Linked DNA regions of Homo sapiens: regions 2, 3 and 4 are each linked to region 1. The links come from fine-mapping of genetic effects on gene expression. A gene starts in region 1. Each other region holds a variant in brackets. All regions are shown on one strand. Distances are from middle to middle.

Region 1 (6,223 bases):
GATGTGAGTTTCATAAGGGCTGAGATTTTTGCCATTTTTGTCTGTTTTGTTTACCAGTGTATTTCCAGTGCCTAAAACAGTGGCTAGCACAGAGCAGGTACTCAATCTTTGTGGAAGGAAGGAAGGAATGAGTGGCTGGCCCTGAGAGACATTAGCTACTTTAACCCTCATAACAACCCCTGCAAGGTAAGTCATTTAAATCCCGTTCTAAAATGAGAAAACTGAGGCTCAGAGTGGTTAAGTGATTTGGCCAATGTCACAAAGTCAAGAAGTGGCCAAGGTCACAAGAATCAGTCCCCCATCTGGCTGGCTCCAAACACTGTATTCTTTTTTTTTTTTTTTCGCCTGTGGTTGTTTTCATGGTAACTGTCTTAGTGTGACAAACGTGACATTCACTTGCTTTCCTTATTCTAAGCAGAAGATGCTTTAACTTCAGGATTTTGCAAAATCTGCCCAGAACTTGTGCTCATGCACCCGAGAATCTATGGGGGAGCCGGTGCCCCCAAAAGCCAGGAAGAAGTCCCTCTACCAGCCCGAGAGTGGGAAGGCCTCACCAGTCAAACGGAGGGAAGGCCCCTCTTGCAAACACCAAAGGAGAGCCACAATCATTCTAGTTTAGTTTCATCTTTTTCTTGGCTTCATCGTTTTATTTTCCTGAGCACTCACTCTGTCTGATCTTTTCAAGTCCGGGTAACTTTTTGCCATCAATGGCTACCACTCACCATGTGAGTCTCTAGGACAAAAATCTATGTCCCATGAGTTTCCCCAAACTGAACTTGCACACAGACCCATGGACCACAGTGCCCCCGCAAACCCCGATCCCCAAGCCCCACTCATGACTGCATCTTAGGACATTGGGAGCAGCCCCTGGGAAGAGAGCTAAGCCTTTCGGGGGCCATGAAGGTGAATAGGAAGGGCCCAGGCCACCAAAAACCCATCTACCCTCTCATTCCAGGGACCATCATAGCTTGAGTCCCCCTTCATCTGCCTGTCATTCTCAATCACATTAACTCATCTGTTTTGTTTCAATCACTTCTCACTATCTGAAGCTGTGCTGTTTATTTATTTCCATATTTGCTTATCACCTGCCTCCTGAGAGCAGGGTGAGGGCATAAGGGCAGGGGCTTGGTCAGTGCTGTTCACCACTGTTCTGTGACTGGCACAGGTGGGCACGCAAATATTGGGTGAATGAATAAGCAAAGACAGCAGGAAACAAGTGGATTCAGAAGAAAAAAGACCAGGAGGCTCACAAATAAACCCATTTAATCCTAAAATCAACCTGCACAGAAGGTGTCATTATGCCTACACCGCTGGGAAGCCACAAAGTAGACCCAGGACTGTGCAACTCCGAGAGGAAAAGAGAAAATGCTGCAGGTAAGCGGAGAAGCAGGTGAGCCCGACACGGAGGGCAAAGGCAAGCTGCCTCTGGGGCCCAGGGCACTGAACACCATCTCCTCAAAGGCTGACATAACTGAGAAGGGTCCACATTTTCCACCAAGTGGAGCCCGTGTAGGGTCGGTGCTATCTCCATGCCCCTGACACACCATGGCACCTGCGTTCACCCAGAAGGTACCTGCCCACAGCATGCATCCATCATTGAGAGTGCGCAAAACCAAGTTCTAATTTCCAGGCACTAATACCATAGGACACAAACATAAACCACCCTCCAGGAGGACACCTGACATCCCTCTCCTTTCTGGGTAGTCTGAAGTGAGAAGGTTGAAAATAGTGCAGATGTCCTTTCTTAGAGCAGCCCCGCCATCCATTCATTCACTCTTTCATTCATTTGTTCAGCCAACATGTGCTCACTGGGCCTGGGGAAGCCCAGGATGAAATGAGACAAACCCTCTGCCCTCTGGCCACGGTGTGCTGGTGCCTGCGCTTTAGGCGGGTACTAAAAGACAAGCAAATATTAAAGATACTCGCTTCCAAAACAAATAAGGCCACGTGGAGCTGTGCACTGGAATGGGATTCTGGATGCAATTTTATTTGATTGGGTACAAGAACCAATCCAGTTAAAGGGGTCATGAACCAACTCCAGGCACCAGGCTCCTACTCAGAGGCTGCCTCAGACCCCCTTCTGGCCCAGGCACCAACCCCTCACCCACCCAACTCCATCTCCCGACATTCTTCAACCACATTCCCATCTCGCTCCACAATATTCTCCCTCCAGGTCCCCCTGACTCTATTTCTCCTCTATTCCCAACCCTGACCTCTCTAGGTCGGCAGCCTTGATGCTACTTCTCCGAACGCCAGGACGCACATCCCAGCCTGCTTTCTACCACCACCCCACACACCTCGAGTCTGCGCTTCCACCCAGAACCCCTTAAACACCATATGTTTACAAACCAGATTCCCCAGGGGTCTATGTACAACACCCCATTCTCAAGACCCCATAAACACATCCTGATTCCCTGAGCACACCATACACACACTGTGGACTTCACCCATGTCCTGAGGGACCCCCTCACCCCATCACCTCCAACTTCTTGGAAGCCCCAGGCCGGCCCCTGACCTCCTGTGGTCCCAGTGGAGCAGCGGACTCGCTGAGACCCCCGGACACCCCAGACTCCGCAGAAGCCCGCCCTGCACGCTTGAACCCCAGGCGCCGGGACAGCCCCTGGCGCCCCCCCGGGCCCCCACACCGCGTGACTCCGGGGCACCCGGGCTCCCCCAGGCCCCGGTCCCGCGCACATCCCCTGGGCCGCAGCTCCCTCGCGGCCCGGCCGCGCCCCTGCCCGCGCCCCGCGCCCGGCCGCGCCTCGGGGGCCCGTTCCCGCGGAGGCCGCGGCGCCCCCCGCAGCCCAGGCCGGCGCGCCCGGAGCGTACCGTTGGCGATGAGCTTGGCCGACAGCTGCTTGACGAGCTCAGGGATCCGCTCCCACTGGCACTCGGAGCGGCAGCGCTCGATCTCCGTCTCCAGCCGCGAGCCTGCCTTCTTGGTCGCCATCGCGGCCTGGCCGGGCCCGGCCGCCCGCCCCGCAGGCCCCACCGCCGCCGCCGCGGCGCCCCCTCGCCGCCTCCCGCCGCCGCCGCGGGCTCGGGCTCCGGCTCCCGGCTCCGCGGCGTAACGGGAGCGCCGGCTGGGGAAGGGGCGGGGAGGCGGGCGGCGGCGGCGGGCGCGGCGGGGCCCCGGGCGCCGCGAGGAGCGGCCCCTGCCGGCCAGGGCCGGAGCCGCAGCACTGACCGGGGCCGGAGCCAGGGCTGGGGCAGGGGCGGGGGCTAGGGCGGGAGACAGGGGCCCGAGGGAGGAAAGGCGGGGTGGGCATGGAGGACAGGGAGAGGGACTGGGGGTGTCTGGGGCGGGGTGAAGACCGAGGGGAAGTGGGGATGGGGGTGGGGGAGCGGGGTAGGAGAGAGATCTGACCAAGGGCGGGTGAGGGGTCTGGTGGGGTAGGGGTCTGGGCAGGATGAAGGGGAGGGAGAGGATCGGGAGGGAGCTAGCGACAGCCTGGGAGCGGGTTGGATCCCCAGGAGTAGGGCCAAGAAAGGGCAGTGACCCTGGGGAAGGTCACCGCCCGGTGGGACCAGTGAGCCAGGTGTGAGGGGTGGGGGGAGGCCTGCCCGAGTTTGTCCTGCCATCTCAGGTGGCCAGCGGTTCCCTGGGGCCCGGTTGGCCTGTGCCCCTTAGCAGATGCCCCTCTGCCCCGCAGCCTTAGCCCCTACCCAGCCAGAGGTGGACGGAGACTCCTCCATCCCAGGCAAGGCACAGCACCTGCCAGGGGTGCCCTAGATGGCTGAGCGGAGCCAGGCAGGGGCTGCCACTCTCACACGCCAGCTCTCGGACCCCCTGAGGGGAAGGCACAGTCACTGGTGGGGCCTCCTGTCTTGGCCACCTAGACTGAGACCTAGGGAGGTGTCCCTCTGTGTTCTCTCAGTGAATCAACTGTCTAGTGATCACCTACTATGTGCTGGGCGCTGCTTTAGGTGCCAGAGATAGAATTGTGAGCTAAAAAAACAAAATTCCTGGCTTGAGAGAGCTTACATTCCAGTTTGGGGGAAAAATAAGCAAAATAAAATAGTAAACTAGACTGTAAAAATGGCTATTTGAAGAAACAGGGAAGGGTTCAGTGAGGAACATAAAGAGTTGGGACAGGCGGGTGGCTCATGCCTGTAATCCCAGCTACTCAGGAGGCTGAGGCAGGATGATTGCTTGAGCCCAGAAGGTGGAGGCTGCAGTGAGCAGTGAACGCACTTCAGCCTGAGCAAGTGTTGCCATTTAAAATGGAGCAGTCAGGGATGGCCTCACGGAGGTGGCATTAGACTTGAAGAAACTAAGGGGGAGCCATGAGGATATCTCTGGGGGAGGAGTATCCCAGGCAGAGAACACCACAAGTGCGAAGGCTCTGGGGTTAGAGCACACTGGGTGGGATGGAGAAATGGCAGAGGCCAGAGGGGCTGGGTGGAGCGAAGGAGAGGGGCCGAGGCAGGAGATGAACTCTGAGAGGTTGGGGGGAGTTCTGTGTAGTGCCTGGTGGGCCATTATAAGACCTTGGCTTTTGGCTGGGCACGGTGGCTCACGCCTGTAATCCCAGCACTTTGGGAGGCCGAGGTGGGCGGATCACGAGGTCAGAAGATCGAGACCGTCCTAGCTAACATGGTGAAACCCGTCTCTACTAAAAATATTTTTAAAAATTAGCCGGGCGTGGTGGCAGGCGCCTGTAGTCCCAGCTGCTGGGGAGGCTGAGGCAGGAGAATGGTGTGAACCCGGGAGGCGGAGTTTGCAGTGAGCTGAGATGGCAGCACTGCACTCCAGCCTGGGCAACAGAGAGAGACTCCGTCTCAAAAAAAAAAAAAAAAACTTTGACTTTTACTCTGGTGACATGGAGCAGCCCTGCAGGGCTTTTCACGGAAGAGTGGCATGATCAGACCTACACTTTGGACTATCACTGTGACTGCAGTGTTGAGAATACTGCCAGGGAAATAGCTGTGGTGGTGGCAGTGTTGGATTCTGGGTCCTGCATTTGAGAGTGAAGCGGTCAGTCTGGAAGGTTCCGTAGCCCGCCCGCAGTCACAAGGAGGCACTGAGGGGTCGTCGTCATTCCTTCTGGGTGCCCTTACTCCAACTTTCCAAGAGCAGTCACACGCAGGTTCTTATCCCCACCACAACTCCCCCACCACCGGAGTTGATGAAGAACACACACTGTGGACCTCAGTTTACCAATGAGGAGGCTGAATCACAGACATTTAAGAGAGGTGAGGAGGAAAGATAAGGAGATGTGTTCTGATGTGACCAGTATCACTTTCAGGTGCCTCAGGGACTGCCAAGGTGATGGAAGTTGAGCTGACAGGCCCTGGACACTGTGAACAGCCCAGGGAAAGGGGAACTAGAACGTTAGAGTTTCAACAGGGGACCCTTTAGTGCCCTGGCCCTTAGCTCCCACCAAGAGGGAGCAGGAAGGGAAGGAGAAGAAATCTCCACAGGAGATGTTTCCTCTCTCCTGACACCCTCCTGTTCTCCCAACTCCAGTCTGCCTCTCCAGATTTGCTGGGAATGTTCTCCATCTGGACCAGGAGACAGATTCCTGTGCCTTCTTTCAGACACGGGCCAAAGGTTACTGGGCAGCCTTGCTCAACATCTGACAGACCTTGTGTGACAGCACTTGCCATCTCCCTCTGGGAAGGGGCAGGGTCTTAATCATGACTAACGCATACACTGCCTCAGTTGCCACACTGGAAGGTAAATGATGAGGGCCACCTGTCTGCCTCCCTACCTGATAAGGTGGCTTCATGAGGACGGATGCTGCCTGGGCCATGGCATTTAACATCCCCAGGCCTCCATTTCTTGGCTGTGATACCTCCCCCTGGAGCTCGTTGAGGAGGAAATGAGGAAATACAGGTAGGGCACAGAGAACAGTGCCAGCATGCCAGGCTCTGTGGCTCACGCCTGTAATCCCAGCAGTTTGGGTGGATCACGAGGTCAGAAGATCGAGACCTTTCTGGCTAACATGGTGAAACCCTGTCTCTACTAAAAATACAAAAAAATTAGCCGGGCATGGTGGTGGGCACCTGTAGTCCCAGCTACTCGGGAGGCTGAGGCAGGAGAATCGCTTGAACCCATGAGGTAGAGGTTGCATCTCCATCATGCCACTGCACTCCAGCCTGGGTGACAGAGCAAGACTCCATCTCAAAAAAAAAAACAGTGCCAGTGCACCAATAGAGTGCCATGTCGGCTGTCATTCTGTGTCTCTCTGCCCCTTGCAAGCCGCATAGGGCCTGGAAC
Region 2 (6,169 bases), 280 kb before region 1:
ACTCTGGAGATAATTTAAAGTTGATCCCCTATTTGTACATTACAGGATGCTCTTCCCTCTTCACATGGTCTGGTCCTTGCTGGCAATGTGAGGATGGGCCAATGTGAGGATGGGCCAGCCCTTTTGCAAACTGGCTGGGCCTAGTCATCTGGTACAAAGTGGCAGAACCTGACGCTTTTGGGCTTCTGCTCACCATCCCTCTTAAAGGTGAAGAAGCCCAGTGTCCTCCAGGGTGGGCACCTTCTTGTCACTCAATGTCACTGTCTTACAGAGGTGTCCCCGACCAGCCAATCTAAAGTAACCCTCCCCCTGTCACTTCAAATTTGCTCTAATCATCTGCCAAGCTGGTAATTATCTTATTTGTTTACCCCTCTGTTTGGGGTCTGTCTTCCCAGTCCCCAATAAGACCACCAGCTCCCCAGCCCAGGTACCTGTGTCTGGCCAGGGGTCCTTGATACACCGTGGCTGAACACAGGCAGGAAGGCCTCACTGCCACCTGGGTGGGTGGAGGTTCAGGCTGGGCTGGGTGCTCAGGAAGCCTCCATGGGCTTGGGGAGGTCATTTTCCTGGTAGCTGTGCCTTCCTGGGTACTGCTGAATGGCAGGCTAAGCTCAGGCTGGAAACCCTGACCTCCTGCCATGCCCGGGGGAGGAGCCATGCAGGGGTAGGGCTGGGCTGTGCTCGGCCATGTGCTTGTGTTTTACACACCCTCTGAATCTTTACAACCACCTTGTTCTCCCCATTTCACAGATGAGGAAACCGAGGCTCAGAGAGGACTAGTGACTCACCTAAGGCTCCTAGGAGAGTAGGTGGCCAGGTCCCGATGCAGGCTCCAGCCCAGCAGGCCCACAACCCGAGCCCTTGGGCCACAGGCACCGCCTCAGGCAGTGGCGGATGGGAGCCTCCTGTGCTGTGACCAAGTGGGACAGGGATGCATGACCCTCCTCAGGCCTTGGCTGGACCCAGGGCCCGAGGATGACCCTGTGGGGTCAAGGAGGCAAAGACAAGAGTGGTGGCGGTCACAGAGGCCCCCAGCCATGCCCATGCTGACCAGGCCCCTCACCTCCTCCTCCATGCAGAGCGGGACTCGGACTCTGCCTCAGCTGCAGCTAGCTCTGCCCTTCCTGCCCTGCTTCAGGGACCCCTCAGCACGTCCCAGCAGCCACTCACCCCTCGCCTGAGGATAGAAGAAAGAAGGAAAGACTTTATGGTGCACCCCGGGGGCCCCATGCCCTGTCCAGGTTGACCTCTGTTAATATCCCCAAAAGCCCGTAAGGGAAGTTACTCCCCGACCATAGAGATGAGGAGACAGAGTGCTTCCCCATCAGAGGTGACACGGCCAGGCAGAACTGGGATTCCAGCCAGATCTGTGTGACCCACAGCCCAGTGGTCACCAGGAAACCCTATTGTCCTCAGGGGGTCAAGGGCCAAACAGCAGAAGATGAGGGAGACGAGGAGGGTGGTGGGGGCTGTGGGTGGCCCGGATGGTCAGCGGGAGCTGCTGGCTCCAGGCAGACCTGCAGAAGATCCCCCACCACCTTCCTGCCACCTCTCCATAGTCAGCCCCACTCAGGGCTTGAGTGTCCAGGAGGAGTCCTGCCTGCTGGCCTGGCCCTGAGGCCCTGTGTGGTGGTCCTGAGGGGCGGTAGCCCTCGTGTCCCCTACCTGGCACACACCACCTCTGACAGCTGCCTGCAGACTCACATCTCAGCCCAGAAGGCAGGCTGGGCAGAGGTGACTGTCCTCATCTGATTCTGAGTCCAGGGAGGGACAGTGGCACAGTGAGGATCACCCCCAGCAGGTGCAGAGCTGGAGTGGGTCCCCCACGGTGTGACCTTGAGGGGGGGCCTCAGCCTGGCCCCCAAAAGACCTTCAGGAGGAGCACATTCCTGTCTGAAATGGTGCAGGATGTCCTTTTTCTGTTCCTATCTGGCTGCAGCGTGGGCAGGGGCAGCAGGAAATGC[A/G]TGACCACAAGTGTGGGAGGAATGTTAGTGGCGGGAACGGCCGCAGCCCTAAGGCTCAGCCCTGGGGCTCGGCCCATTTTCCTGTGTGGGGTCCTCAGGCCCAGTGCGGCTGCTACTGCCCGCCTCCCCCGGAGGACTCCGGCCAGGCCTCAAAGGCTTATGGTCAAGTGTGTGGCTGCTTCTGGAGTAGGCAGGATGGACAGGGCAAGCAGACGCTAGGGGAGGGATGGGAGCAGCCACCTGGTACAGTGCCCAAGACACAGTTTACAGAACTTCAATATGAGTGGTGTCCCCTCACTGGGCAATGCCCACCCTGTCGGCCTTGAGAGGTGGTGGGGGAGGAGCAGGAATGAGAAGGTGGCGATATGGAGAGAGGGGGCCGAGTGGCAGGGGCCGAGCGCTGGGAGGGTATGGGGGCATTGGAGGGAGACAGTGGCCAGAGTGGCTGACCCTGCCCTGAAATTCCTTCAGTAGGGCCGGGTCACCCATTCCAGCCTGGAGCCGGCTGTGCTGCAGGGACCTGGGCTGGGGCTGGGGCAGCAGGTGACAGGCTGGTGACAGGCCCAGCACGGACAGGGCAGACGTGGAGAACTCCAAGGATGATGGGGAGGGTGCCTGCAAAGGGGGGACTTCCTGCAGGCAGAGAGTCTGGGCCCGCAATGATGACTGTGTGGCCGCCGGGGAGATGCGTGGGGCCATCTGGAGGAGTCTGGGTTGCTCCATGTGATCACAGACACGCCCACCTGTGCACGAGCATGCACCTCCCCCAGGCCATGACCACAGGTAGGGGGCATGGAGGATAACGGGAGGCCTTGGTTCCCTCCTTTCCCCACCGAGGGAGGTCCCCACGCAGCCCTGAGGGTGAGCAGAGCCCTGGCCACAGCCCAGGGCCCAGGACCTGGAAGGAGGCAGAGAGACAGACAGACGAGCCCATGGATCCCAAATGGGGCTGGGGATGGGAAGTGGCCTGCCCCGGCCACACCTGCCCAGGCCCCCAGCCTGGCTCTGTCCTGAGATCCTCTTGGCTGAGTGGGGCGGCTCCTTCAAAGAAGGGCCTCCTCCCTCCTCTGCCTCCTCCTTCCCTTCCTGGTCCATTCGCCACCCCACCCTGCCCGAAGTTGGCTCCCTGCTCACTGAGGAGTGGGTGCCCCGTCCCCAGGGCTCCCTGGCTTGGGGGTACCCAGGCCTCTGCCTCCCTGCTGCTGCTGCTCTGGGGAACCACCAGGCCCCCAGCCAAGGCAGCCCCCCTCAGCTTCCCTCTCTCCTTCCTCACGCCTGCCCTGCTGGAAACACAAGGTGCTCAGCGAGGCCGCCTTCAACACTCAACACGGCCCCTTCCCCACCGGACTCCTAACCTGTGTTCTCAGCTCCCCTCTGCAGCTACGCTCTTGAAAGAGACTTCACCTTTTCCTCCCCCTTGAGCCCACTCCAACCTGGCTTGACCCCACCTTAGTCAGCTTGGGCTGCCGTAAGAAAACCGCCACAGACAGGTGGCTTCAACAATGAACTTAATTTCTCACAGTCCTGGAGGTTCAAAGAACAAAGCAAAGGTTCCAGCCCATCTGGGTTCCTGTGAGGCTCCCTCCTGGCTTGCGGGTGGCCGCCTTCTCCGTGTGTCCTGGCGTGGCTGAGCGTGAGCTCACTTGCACTTTAGAGTTTCTTCTGGTGAGGACGCCAATCCTACTGGGCCAGGGCCCCTCCTGATGACCTCACTTCACCTGAATTACTTCCTTAAGGGGCCTATCTCCAAATATAGTCACACAGGGGCGGGGGCTCCACCCTATGAATCTGGGGGAGCAAAACTGCATCCCCAGCATGGCTCTGGTCAAGGTCACTGCCAACCTGCACACCACCAGGCCCACGGTCAGCTCTCAGGCCACCCTGACGGGGTCTCCAGGCATTGAGAGAGCCCACCCACCTCCTCCAGGAAGCTCACCCTGCCTGCTCTCCGCCTCCCTTGCAGCTGCTCCTGCGCCTTCTTTCCTGATCTCTTCATTTCCCAGCCTGTAAACCCCGCCAGCCCCGGAGCTCAGCCCTGACCTCTTCCTCTTTGTCTATGCTTGTCCCGAAGTGGCCCCGTCAGGCCCATGGCTCCCAGCCCCGCATCCCTGACACCTCCCACACTCTCGCCTCATCTTGGGCTCTCGCCTGGGCTCCTGCCCAGCCAGCTGCCTCCCCCTCAGAGGCTCCACAGGCATTTTGTATTCAACCTGCCTGAAAGCAGACTCCTGCCTTCTCCTCTCCTCCCCAACCTATTCTTCCTGTTTCCTGGCCATCATCGCCATCCTTCCAGTAGCTCAGGACAAGACCCTCACCCTCATCCCTGGCGTCTCCCCTCCCTCACACCCAGCTCCATGTGTGAGCAACCCTCTTGGCTCTGTCTTCAGAATCTTCACAGTCCAGTGCCTCTCGCCACTTCCTCCACGCCCCTTGGTCTAAGCACCATGGTCGCTGTGTGACAGCAGGAGCCTGACAGCCTCCCAGCTCCCACGCTGCGGCCTGCAGAATAACGTGCTCCCCCTGCCCCTCAAAGACGTCCACATCCCGAGCCCTGGAACCTGTGACTATGTTGCCTTCCATGACAGATGGAGCGATGCAGATGTGATTGAACGAAGGCTCTCGAGGTGGGGCAATGGCCCTGGACTATCCAGGGGGCCCAGAGCAACCAGCAGAGTCCTTAGAGGGAGGCAGGAGGTCAAAGGCAGAAAGGTGACGCAGTGACGGAGCAGAGGAAGGAAAGGTGACGTGAGGTGGCCACGAGCCAAGGCCGCAGGAAGCCTCTAGCCGCTGGAGAAGACGGGGACACCCGTCCTCCTCCAGAGCCTGGGGAAGGAGCACAGCCCCACTGAAAGCTTGATTTGACTTCTGACCTCCAAAACAAAGAGAATAAATTTGTGTTAAGACGCTAAGTTTGCGGTCATTTAAAATTTTTAATTTATTTTATTTGTAGAGATAGGGTCTTGCTCTCTCATGCAGGCTGGACTGCGGTGGCGTGATCACTCACTGCAGCCTCAACCACCTGGGCTCAAGCAATCAGCCCATCTCAGCCTCCCAAGCAGCTGGGACTACAGGTGCACGCCACCAAACCTGGCTATTTTTTTTTTTTTGTAGAGATGGGGGGGGGGTCTCACCATGTTGCCCAGGCTGGTCTTGAACTCCTGGCCTCAGCTGATTCTCCTGCCTCAGCCTCCCTAAGTGCTGGGATTACAGGCAGGAGCCACCATGCCCAGCCAGTTTATGGTAATTTGCTGCAACCACAGGCAATTAATATACACTGTTAGCATGGTCCACGAGGCCGCACCTGTGTGGCCCCTGTTAAACTTCTGACCTCTTCTCATCCTTCACCACCTGACCATCCCCCTCCCCTCTGGGCCTTTGCACCTGCTGTTCCTGCTTCCTGAGATGTCCTCCTCCCAGGTTACCTGTCTTTCTTCAGCCAGATGTCACCTTCTTAGCGAGGCTTCCCTAGTCACCTTCTAAACAGCAGCCCTGCCACTCCCTACACCCCTTCCCTGGCTTCATCTTTCTCCATGCGTCACCCCACCTGCCATACTCCTCATCTGTCTGTTTCCTTCTACCAGAAGGTAGGTCCTAAGTGGATGCAGCATCTGTGTCACACATTGCTGTGCCCTCAGTGCCTGGAATAAGCATCTGGCATGTTGTGAGCATTCCATAGATATTTGTTGGATGAATGAATGAGTGAATGAATGAATGAAATTTCACAGATGGGGAGACTAAGACCAGGGAACAGGAACGCCTTGCCTAAGTTAGGGTCAGCACTAGTCCTGGAATCAAACGCGGCATCTCCTGCATCTCACTGTCCAAAAAATGCCTCCACTGGGCAGACCTGGGCACTTTTGAAATGTTTATCCCTCAGGCCTGTCTCAATCTTAGTTCTGCCAGGTAATTCCACAATGACCCCAGGCAGGTGTCCTGCCGTCTTAGTGTCTAGCGTCTGCGTCCTCATCTATTAATGGATGGACGGATGGATGGATGGATGGATGGATGGATGGATGGATGGATGGACGGACGGACGGACGGGTGGACGGATGAATGGATGGATGGATGGATGGACGGATGGATGAATGTCCTTAGTTGGGAAAGGCTCAGCAGGTCAGAAGACTAGGAAGAAGGCCAGAGCCATGAGAGGGCTTGGGGAAGGAGAGGCAGCCAGGCACACAGGGGGCTGGGACACAGAGTCTGGT
Region 3 (5,000 bases), 190 kb before region 1:
CTTTTTGGTAATTTCTGACATTTGGGAAGCAAGTCCCGGGCCTCTTCTGTTCTGCCACCCTTCCTCTCCTAGAGGACCTTCTCTCTGGAGGATCTCTCGGTCTTTATTTCTGGCTGAGCCCCCAAGGCCCTGATTTCTCCACATGACCCAGTTTGAGGAGGGGAGCACAGTGAAGAAATGAGACATTGGGACCCAGTTCAGCAGACAACGGCAGATGCCAGAAGAATGGGAATCCCACCACCTAGACCTAGAAGGGGAAGGGCCTGGGCCACAGTGTGATATGGACTTGATCCATGAAGCTCTGTGATATAGAAATGGCGCCTTCTGCACAGTCAGGAGGGAACTAGGAAGGAAGGGGCCTGGCAGGGCACTGGGAAGCTCAAGCGGCTCTCCAGGACCAGAGGTGGATGATGTGTCTCTCTGGGCTCCAGGGCCACATGGGACCGCGCATCCTTGCATCAATCAGCTGCTCCTGTGAATCCTGGCCTGTTTTACATTTCCTGCCTTCTCTGCCTTCATTTCCTGTGTGTTTCCATGAGGGGCTGTTTGGTTTCGCATGGCTTGATTCCACTGTGCCAAGGGACACTGAAGGCAGCACTTTTGTCCATGCCTGGCCTAGAGCTCAGAAACAGACAGCCCTCCTCCCTGAAGGTGAGCGATTCTTCGGAGGCATAGCACGCTCCAGCGTGATTCTGCCTCCACATCTCACTGTGTGCTGCGTGAAGACTGGGATGGTGCCATCTCCGGCCTTGGCCCTCCTGAGCCTGGCACCATGCCTGGCTGAAAGCAGGCGCTCTCTACCCATGAACTGGGGGAGGTGTTCAAAGGACAGTGAATCTGATCATCTGAAGGTGGCTTATCAATTCTCCCCAGTTGTTTTCAGCTCAGGATCCCCACAAGAATACTTATAGGATAAATTTGGAGATTCTCTCATTTCTCTTCCCTGTTCTCAGGTTCCTTTTTTTTTCTTTTTTTTTAAATAGTAAACTTTCCTTACTTTAAAATGCAACCATTACAAATGAACTAGAATTCAATTGTGTTTGGAATATCTGATTTTTTTTCACAGCTGGCTGGGTAACCAGCAAGCACCTTATACCGCCCATTTGCAGAAAGTATGGCCATCATTTTATCAGACAGTGAAACTTGGCAGAGTAGAAATCAAAATGGATAACAGATGAAACACAGGCAGACACAAGCTTAGCTATGAACGAAGAGCTACCAGGCTACTCTGCACGGACAAAGTTTCAAGCATGCATTGCACAGACAGGTATTAATGTTTGTAGCAGGCAGCCCGGGGCCAGGTGCTGGGGAGCCAGAGGTTTCCAGGAAACACCTGCAAGAAGTCTCAAGAGGACACTCCCATACTCTGAATTGTTGAATGAGATATGGGGAGAACTTGGAGATCTTGGAAAGAAAAGCACAAAAATAAATAAACCTTCTGGATGCCATGACTCGCGGGGAGTGGCTTTGGTGTGGGCCTCACCATGGTGCCCCTCCTGGCCCAGCCTCGCCTCTCCCAGCTGCTCGGCTTTCTGAGCCCCCGGCGGTCAGCCAGTGCTCTCTCCTGTGGCTGACAGGGAGGCTGGGATGCCCTGAAGGCTGGTTCTCCAGCATCTTTGGAAAAAAAACTAGAAAAGGGAACTTCCCTGGAAAGGAAGCAGAATATCCCATGAGGATTTAAACTGGGGGACACCAGTCATATGCAAGCCTAGTACTGGTTGTGAAAATGGGGGGAGGGGTTTGGGCCAGCACCACTCCTAATCTCAGGACATGGCTGTCTCCAACCCCGGAGAAAGGAGGATCCTCTCATAAACAAACGTGGCTTCAAATACATTTTCCTGCCATTTCCCCTCTTCCAGTTCTTCTACTTTTGCCTCATAAACCAAATCTTCAGTTTCCAGACAATTTTTCATTGCATTTGGGGGATTTTGTCCCTCTTGACAAGCATCTATGTTTAGTGAAGGCAACAGCACAGAGCCAAAGCCTCACAGAAAGAGGACATCCATGCGCGTGGGGTGCTGGGAGGCTGCTTCCGTGGCTCAGCAAGTCCATCCCAGAAGAACATTGGCTCCGTGATGCAGAGCCGGAGAATCTCAAGAGCAGAAGGGTCCCTTGTCATCTACGAATGCTGGAAACCCTCCTGCAGCCACACATGTTAACAAAGGGAGCTCAGAAAGTTTCGTTTCTTTAAAATGTAGTAAAATATACGTAACATAAAATTTGCTAATGAGCTATTTTTAAGCGTACAGTTTAGTGGCATTGTGTACATTCACACTGTTGTGCAACCATCACCAGCCTCCATTTCCAGTACTCTATTCGTGTTGCAAAACTGAAACCGCACCCACTGAACAATAGCTTCCCATTCCCCCTCCCAGCCCTGGCAACCACCATTCTACTTTCTGTCTCTATGAGTTTGACTACTCCA[C/G]GTACCTCATATGAGTAGAGTCACACATTATTTGTCCTTTTGTGACTGGCTTATTGCACTTAGCATAATGTCCTCAATTTTCATCTATGTTGGTACATCCATCAGAATGTCCTTCTATCTTGTTTTTTGTTTTTTTTTTTTTTGAGATGGAGTCTCACTCTATTGCCCAGGCTGGAGTGCAGTGGCATGATCTCGGCTCACTGCAAGCTCTGCCTCCTGGCTTCACGCCATTCTCCTGCCTCAGCCTCCCGAGTAGCTGGGATTACAGGCGCCTGCCACCACGCCCAGCTAATTTTTTGTATTTTTAGTAGAGACGGGGTTTCACTGTGTTAGCTAGGATGGTCTCGATCTCCTGACCTTGTGATCTGCCTGCCTTGGCCTCCCAAAGTGTTGGGATTACAGGCGTGAGCCACTGCACCCAGCCATGTCCTTCCTTCTTAAGGCTGAATAAAATATTCCATTATATGTGTAAACCTCATTTTGTTTAACCATTCATTCATTGATAGGCACTTGGCTTGTTCCCACCTTTTGGCTATTGAGAATTATGCTGCTGTGAACACGGGTGTATAGATCTGTTCAAGTCCCTGTTTTCAATTCTTTTGGGCAGACACCCAGAAGTGGGACTGCTGGATCACATGATAATTCTATTTTTAATGTTTTGAGGAACCACCATACTGTTTTCCATAGCGTCTGCACCAATTTTTTTTTTTTTTTTTTGAGACAGATTCTCGCTCTGTCACCCAGGCTGGAGTACAGTGGCATGGTCTCAACTCACTGAAACCTCCGCCTCCCAGGTTCAAGCGATTCTTCTGCCTTAGCCACCCGAGAAGCTGAGACTACAGGCACATGTTACCACACCCGGCTAATTTTTTATTTTTAGTAGAGACGGGGTTTCACTTTGTTGGCCAAGCTGGTCTCGAACTCCTGACTTTGTGATCTGCCCATCTCAGCCTCCCAAAGTGCTGGGATTACAGGCATGAGCCACCCTGCCCAGCCTGAGTCTGCACCATTTTATATTCCCACTAGCAATGCACAAGGGTTCCTATTTCTCTACATCCTTGTCAACACTTGTGACTTTGTTTTTTTGATAAAATCCATCCTACTGGGTATGAAGTGGTATCTCATTGTGGTTTTGATTTGCATTTCCCTAATGGTTAGTGATGTAGAGACTCTTTTCATGTGCTTATTGGCTATTTGTATATCTTCTTTGGAGAAACATCTATGCAACTCCTTTCCTTTGCCCATTTCCTAAAGGGGATGGGGTTTTGTTTCGTTTTGTTAGGGTTGTGGAAAGTTGATTTTAAATAAGCTACTGCACCACTAAGTCCCACTCCATTGTGACCCCTGTTGTCTTCCAGGCTGCCACCAACTCGCCTGTGTCCAAAGGCCTCCCTCCCTACTGGTATCCCTGGGGTGGTTACTGTGTGCTCACTCCTTCCAGACATCCTTCAGGTATCAGTGGATCATTTCTCTAGTTTAATGAGATGAACAGCCTCTTTCCTTGTGGTCTAACTTCTTATCAAATGCTAATTTAGTGGGCATGTTCATTGCTTCATCACTCAGCTCAGGCAAAAAATTTGCCCACAACCCCTGGTCAATTTAAATCACCAAAATTGTTTTAATCACTAAATCAAAACATTATTCAATATGATGTTTCAACTTAAACTGAACTTCTCTGAGAGTATGTGTGTGTGTGCCCGAGTGAAAAAGAAACATTAGTCTCACTTGCCAAGTAATGATTTAAAAAAAAATTATATGTATACTCCACTCAAGTAAAGAATGATTATAACTATGTTTCCTAGTTTTTTGATTCCAGGTTAACAGGGGAGATAGCATAAAACTCCTGCTCATCTGGGTTATAAGCTCTAATGGAGCAGAAACTGACTTGTTCACAGCAGTAATCCCCAACATCTAGCATGGCCCCTGGCATGTGGTAGAAACTCAATGCTTCAAAGTCAGTTCGTGGTTACGAGCACAGATGGCGAGGCCAGATTGCCTGGGTTGAAATCATGGCTCTGCCTTTTTCCAGGTGTATAATCTTGGACAAATTACTTAAATTCTCTGTGCCTCAGTTTCCTTATCTACAAAATGAAAATAATAACAAAACTACCCACCATAGATAGTTCTTGCAAGGATTAGTTAAAAATGTGTAAAGTGTTATTAAGAGTGCCTGTCACAATGCGGGGTATAAACATTAGTGGTTACTAATGCTGAAAGAATGACTGATTAAATGAATGAATGTTATATATGTTCACTTCTTCCCATACAGTTAGTTTCCACTGATGTAAAAAGAAATGTGACTGTCTGATAAAATCTGTGTTGACATGTATAAGAGCTGAGGCCACGGACAGAAGTGTTCTAGAAGACCTCTGTGCCTCCAATCAGGTGACTGAGGGTGTGTCTCAATATCATCTGATGTCTTATAGTTATGGGTCAGAGAAAACACTTCAAACACTTGTGCATACAGCATCATGATCACATACTTATATTAGTAATCTTGAGAGGTTTGCTTTGTGGTGACATCTGATGTTTTCTTAAGTGTGCTATTGATTTGATAACCTCTCTGGGAGCACAT
Region 4 (5,000 bases), 33 kb before region 1:
TTTCTTTGGGAGGTGATGAAAATGTTCTAGAATTCATTGTGGTGATGGTTGCACAACTTCATGAATATACTAAAAATCACTGAAGTGGACACTCTGAATGGGTGAGTTGTATGGTATGTGAATCACACTTCAATAAAGCTGTTGCAAAAACCAAACCAAAACAAAACCCTGCGGCTCCCTTCATCAGGCCTGTGGCTGGGCTGGGCCGGCTGGGAAGGAAGGAATGCTTCATAAGTTAAACATACAAGCACCTGTCTCAGAAAAGGAAGCGGCCAGACATCCTGGTGGGTCTGGCCATGGCACTGGAGATGCACCACAACCCTGTAACCCAAATAACCAAGGAGAGCCTTCCCAAATGGATGTGAAGATCAGGACTTGCTTGCTTTCCAGGGCGAAGTTTCTCACTGAGCCATTGAAGTTTCTAAACTGAGGTGACCTGGTACCCTCCCTAGAGGCTAAGGGCTGGAAGTTCTCTGTGGGCCCCCCTTCCTCCCAGTCAGCAAGGCTGGCCTGGCCAGTCCCCCTCTCCCCAAAGCCTCATCATTGCCTTCCTCCCTGACCCGTCCTCCGGCACCTAGGGAAAGAACAGGCCACCCTGCCACCTATATAAGGAAACAGATTTATCTTCTGTGGCCAGACCTTCTCCTCAGAGCCCAAGCGGTTCAAAGCTGAGGTTTTTGCTTACAGAAGCACACCATGAAACCGCACTATTTATACTGTAACCTAGAGCTTTGATGAGTGGACAACACGGCCAGGTAGCCAGGTACAGCGTGTTACAGCAGCTATCTCAGCCAGCGTGGTCGGCTTCCAGGCATTTCTTGGAAGAGGGAGGGACATCAGGCAGCATTGGAAAGGATGGTGCAGTGGACAAGCAGGACTGATGGGAGCAAAAGTGTTTATGGGTGGCCCAAGGGAGAGGCACCAGAGGAATTAGAATTACATCTGGAGACAGAGAAATCAAAGCAGACTCAGAAAAGAGAAAAAAAGCATCCAGGCCGAGTGCGGTGGCTCACACCTATAATCCCAGCACTTTGGGAGGCCGAGGCAGGCAGATCACTTGACGCCAGAAGTTCGTGACCAGCCTGGCCAACATGGTGAAACCCCATCTCTACTAAAAATACAAAAATTAGTGGGGCATGGTGGTGCACACCTGTAATCCCAGCTACTCAGGAGGCTAAGGCACAAGAATCACTTGAACCCAGGAGGCGGAGGTTGCAGTGAGCCAAGATCACGCCATTGCACTCCAGCCTGGATGACAGAGCGAGACTCTGTCTCAAAAAAAAGCATCCACCACAGGGGTTCTCCACCCAGGTAGGGGACAGGCCAGGCTTGGGTATTTTGAAAACATTTCCTAGGACATTCTGGGAAGTCTACCCTCCTTCCCCAAGCTTCTAGCCTCTAAGAACCGTTGGATTAAAGGCGAATTGAAAGAGGAGGGGGAATGAGGAGTTAGCATTAATGGACACATCACAAGAGGTTCGCTCTGGGAAGATGCAAAGAGTCCTGGAGATGGAGGGTGGTGACGGCTGAGTGACAATGGTAATATACTTAACGCCACTACACTGTACACTTACAAAGAGCTATAATGTTAGGTTGTAAGTTATGTATATTTTACCAAAAGGGAAAAAAAAAAAGGTTAACAAAAGCAAACTGGAGAGCCAGGTGGAGAAAACGCTTGAAGAAAATTGCAAGCCTAGAGGCACAGCTTGGACACACTGGGAGAGCCTCCCTGGGCGAGTCCAGTCTCCACCCAAGTACAGGAAACAGCTTGGCCAGGGCGCCTCGGCTGCCTGGGCAGTGGGAGAACAGCCCCAACACAGTGTCAGGGGCCACCTTGCTCACAATAAGGACCATTTTCTTGCCTTGAATCACAAGCCAGATGTCCTGACTCCTAGTCCAGGACTCTTTCCATCCCACTACATGCCTGGCTGGCTCTGGTCTTCCCAGCCTCAATTCACTTAAGACAAGCTGGACTTAAGCTCAAGGAAAGAGAAAGTTTCACATTAGTTGGTGTGAGTAGGACAGCACACCCATGCAAAAGATGTACGGCTTTGGAACATTCTTTATAAGATGGAGGAAGGTGAAAAAGAGCAATGGGAGAAAAAAATTCTCTAGGTAGAACTAATAACATAGCAAGAAATGATGTGTATCTAGTGCTATACAGCTTTGAAAGAATTTCTCCATTTGAGCCTCAAAACAATCCTGGGTTAAGTAGGCCTGCAGCTGAGAAACATGAAGCTCAGAGAGGTTAAGTAACGTCCCAAGATCACACAGCTTATAAATCCAGAACTGGACTCAGACTCAAGCATTTTAACTTGAATTAAATTCAACAGCTGGGTGCAGTGGCTCAGGCCTGTAATCCCAGCACTTTCGGAGGCCGACGCAGGCAGATCACCTGAGGTCAGCAGTTCGAGACCAGCCTGGCCAACATGGTAAAACCACGTCTCTATTAAAAATACAAAAATTAGCCAGGTGTGGTGGCATGCGGCTGTAGTCACAGCTACTCAGGAGGCTGAGGCATAAGAATTGCTTGAACCTGGGAGGTGGAGGTTGCAGTGAGCCAAGATGGTGTCTGGATGACAGAACAACACTCTGTCTCAAAATAAATAAATAAATAAAAAATAAAATAAATTCAATGGGCTTACTACCACACTGCATTGTAGAGGATGGAAAGCAAAACCTATCAGCACCTGGTGAAATGAAAAGTGAATTTTTCAAGATGAAGTTGGGGGGCGGGTAGACGGGGGAAAGAAACAAGCCAGATCTCTCCCCTCACACCTCCCAGCAGGACACTTGAGTCTGGCTGGCCATCACTGTGAGCTGTGGCCCATGTGCCTGCTGTCCCTTCACTCTCTCCTGCTGATCAAGACCTACCACCTGTGTCCCCAGATCAAGACCTACCCCTGTGTCCACCTGTGTCATCATGTCATCGGTTAAGAACATATGAGATGAGGCCGGGAGC[G/A]GTGGCTCACGCCTGTAATCCCAGCACTTTGGGAGGCTGAGGTGGGCGGATCACGAGGTGAGGAGATTGAGACCATCCTGGCTAACACGGTGAAACCCTGTCTCTACTAAAAATACAAAAAATTAGCCGGGCGTGGTGGCGGGTGCCTGTAGTCCCAGCTAGTCAGGAGGCTGAGGCAGGAGAATGGCATGAGCGCGGGAGGCAGAGCTTGCAGTGAGCGAAGATCACGCCACTGCACTCTAGCCTGGGTGACAGAGCCAGACTCCATCTCGAAAAAAAAAAAACATATGAGATGGATGAGATGGAGATGGGGTTTCGCCATGTTGGCCAGGCTGGTATTGAACTCCTGGCCTCAAGTGATCTGCCACACACCAAAGTGTGGCATGGCCCTTACAGAGAAACTGAATGGGGAAAGAGAAGACCTGGTTTTTGAAGCCCAAATGCAGCAGGGAGTCTTTAAGTACCTGGGATCCCTATGCTGAGCTGACCTCTCCAGCCACCCCCTAGGGGCCTGGGGCAAGATCCCTGTGTTGAGATGACGCTCTCCAGCCACCTCCTAGCGGCCTGGAGCTGTGTCCCGTGCATACAACATACACAGAGACAATTTTGAAAGCAGCTCTCTATCAGGGTTTCCAGAAGCCTGTTGCTGCACAACTGACCAACACCAATACTAACTTACTCAAAGGTTGCCCAGGCCCTCCATTGCAGCAGGGCCAAGGAGGTGGCCAGATGACCAAGAGGAGGAACAGCTCAAATTGAAAGCTCACAGGCTTAGAACATGCAGGAGCCGGGAAGGTCCAAGCTCACCCCTTTAAGAGCCCACCCCATTCAAACCTAAAGAAACTGAGCTGCAGAGAGGCGAGTAACCTCCCCGGGGTCACACAGCAAGTCGGGAGCAGGCTGGAGTTTGCAGTACAGATATGAAATGTAAAGCCAAAGAAAGCATGGCTTCCCGGGGGGAAGCGTGCACACACAAACAAGAATAAAGACCAAAAATGGAGTCTCAGAGGATTCCGAGACAGGAAGAGAAGAAAAATGAGAAAGAAGTCATCAAAGTTAAAAGGAAACGGAAGTCAGAGCTCCAGAAGTTCACCAAAGACTGTCCTCAGTGGGAAATACATCCTGGGGAAGACAGGCAGCATGGAGCGGGCCACAGACAGCCATCTGAACTAGGGGAAGCATCTAGAGCCAGGGGAGTGTGAGCCACCTGGGAGGCAGAAGGGCAGGGCGGGAAGAGGAGATGACCCCCATGAAAAGCAAAAGGAACTGATGAGGAGTCCAAGAAGAAAGGAAGGAAAGCCACGTGAGAGGGAATGGAAACCTGGGTGTAATGAGACCGGAAAACAGAATGGACAGATAGGGGGCAGCACCTAAGATTCCTTGTGCCTGAGGGTGAGGGTTCTTGCTGAGACGTGGGGAAGTTCCTGGCCCCCTCCCAACTGTGACGCCAGGCCTGCTGGCACCAGTATGGAACCTCCCACAGCTCTGGGCCACAGTGGCTTCTTACATTGATGAGCAGGAAGCTGTGCGCTGAGCATCCTTCTGATTAACTTCTCTCTTTTCTAGAACTGCGTAACATGTCAGGTTAAGCTCTGGGTTATATCGGATAGCTTTAGTTCAAGCGTCTGAGAGATAAGTGGCATTGTGCAGATGACGTGTCATTGAAGACTCTCATCAGAGAGACCCTATTGGCCCAGAAGCCCCCACAGTGGTCAGCCAGCCTAGAGATTGGCACATCCACCCAACTGGGAGCTGGCCCGCTTCTAAGAAGACAAGCCCTGGCAGTGTGCAGGTGAGCTCCAAACGTCACCCGGCTCAACCCTGGGCACCCTTCTCAACCCCACACTGTCCAAAGGAAGTGTCGCCTCAGCCCAGAGGCCCATGGTACCTTAAGGTTCCCTCGGTCCAGGGCGGCGGTCAGATGCTTGCGGACCTCAGTCAGCTGGGGCTTGGGGCCTCGGGGACTGGCCCCCTGCCTCAGGGGGTGTTCCTTCAGGTACTGCTCCAGCTTCGACTCCCCGAGGAGAAGCTCTGCCAT

Which allele goes with the higher level. Positions count from the first base shown, and alleles are read on the strand shown. Sizes are in standard deviations (SD) of each study's normalised expression. Not every link is listed here.
In carriers of allele G in region 3, the expression in monocytes after R848 of the gene that starts at base 3,085 in region 1 tends to be lower than with C alone (large effect, 0.92 SD a copy in Quach 2016).

What was found. PIP is the estimated chance that this variant, and not a neighbour inherited with it, causes the effect.
Region 2: its variant is fine-mapped to the expression of TTC7B in testis (GTEx, PIP above 0.99).
Region 3: its variant is fine-mapped to the expression of TTC7B in monocytes after R848 (Quach 2016, PIP 0.95).
Region 4: its variant is fine-mapped to the expression of TTC7B in lung (TOPMed, PIP above 0.99). The same link has a PIP of 0.9 or more in monocytes.

What each region holds. Positions count from the first base shown.
Region 1 is chr14:90,813,346-90,819,568 of GRCh38, forward strand. It overlaps TTC7B (tetratricopeptide repeat domain 7B), which reads right to left and starts at 3,085. Exons shown (of 20, transcript NM_001010854.2): 1 at 2,830-3,085. The coding sequence starts at 2,950. RefSeq lists a silencer at 3,079-3,258.
Region 2 is chr14:90,532,295-90,538,463 of GRCh38, forward strand. It overlaps TTC7B (tetratricopeptide repeat domain 7B), which reads right to left. Exons shown (of 20, transcript NM_001010854.2): 20 at 1-6,169. Among named protein-coding and RNA genes, the nearest start is that of LINC00642, 80 kb to the left of the region's middle. RefSeq lists enhancers at 877-1,377, 1,412-2,242. The variant A/G (reference allele first, on the strand shown) is at 1,965.
Region 3 is chr14:90,628,285-90,633,284 of GRCh38, forward strand. All of the region lies in intron 15 of TTC7B (tetratricopeptide repeat domain 7B), which reads right to left. Among named protein-coding and RNA genes, the nearest start is that of TTC7B-AS1, 12 kb to the right of the region's middle. The variant C/G (reference allele first, on the strand shown) is at 2,426.
Region 4 is chr14:90,781,324-90,786,323 of GRCh38, forward strand. It overlaps TTC7B (tetratricopeptide repeat domain 7B), which reads right to left. Exons shown (of 20, transcript NM_001010854.2): 2 at 4,851-5,000. Among named protein-coding and RNA genes, the nearest start is that of TTC7B, 33 kb to the right of the region's middle. The variant G/A (reference allele first, on the strand shown) is at 2,963.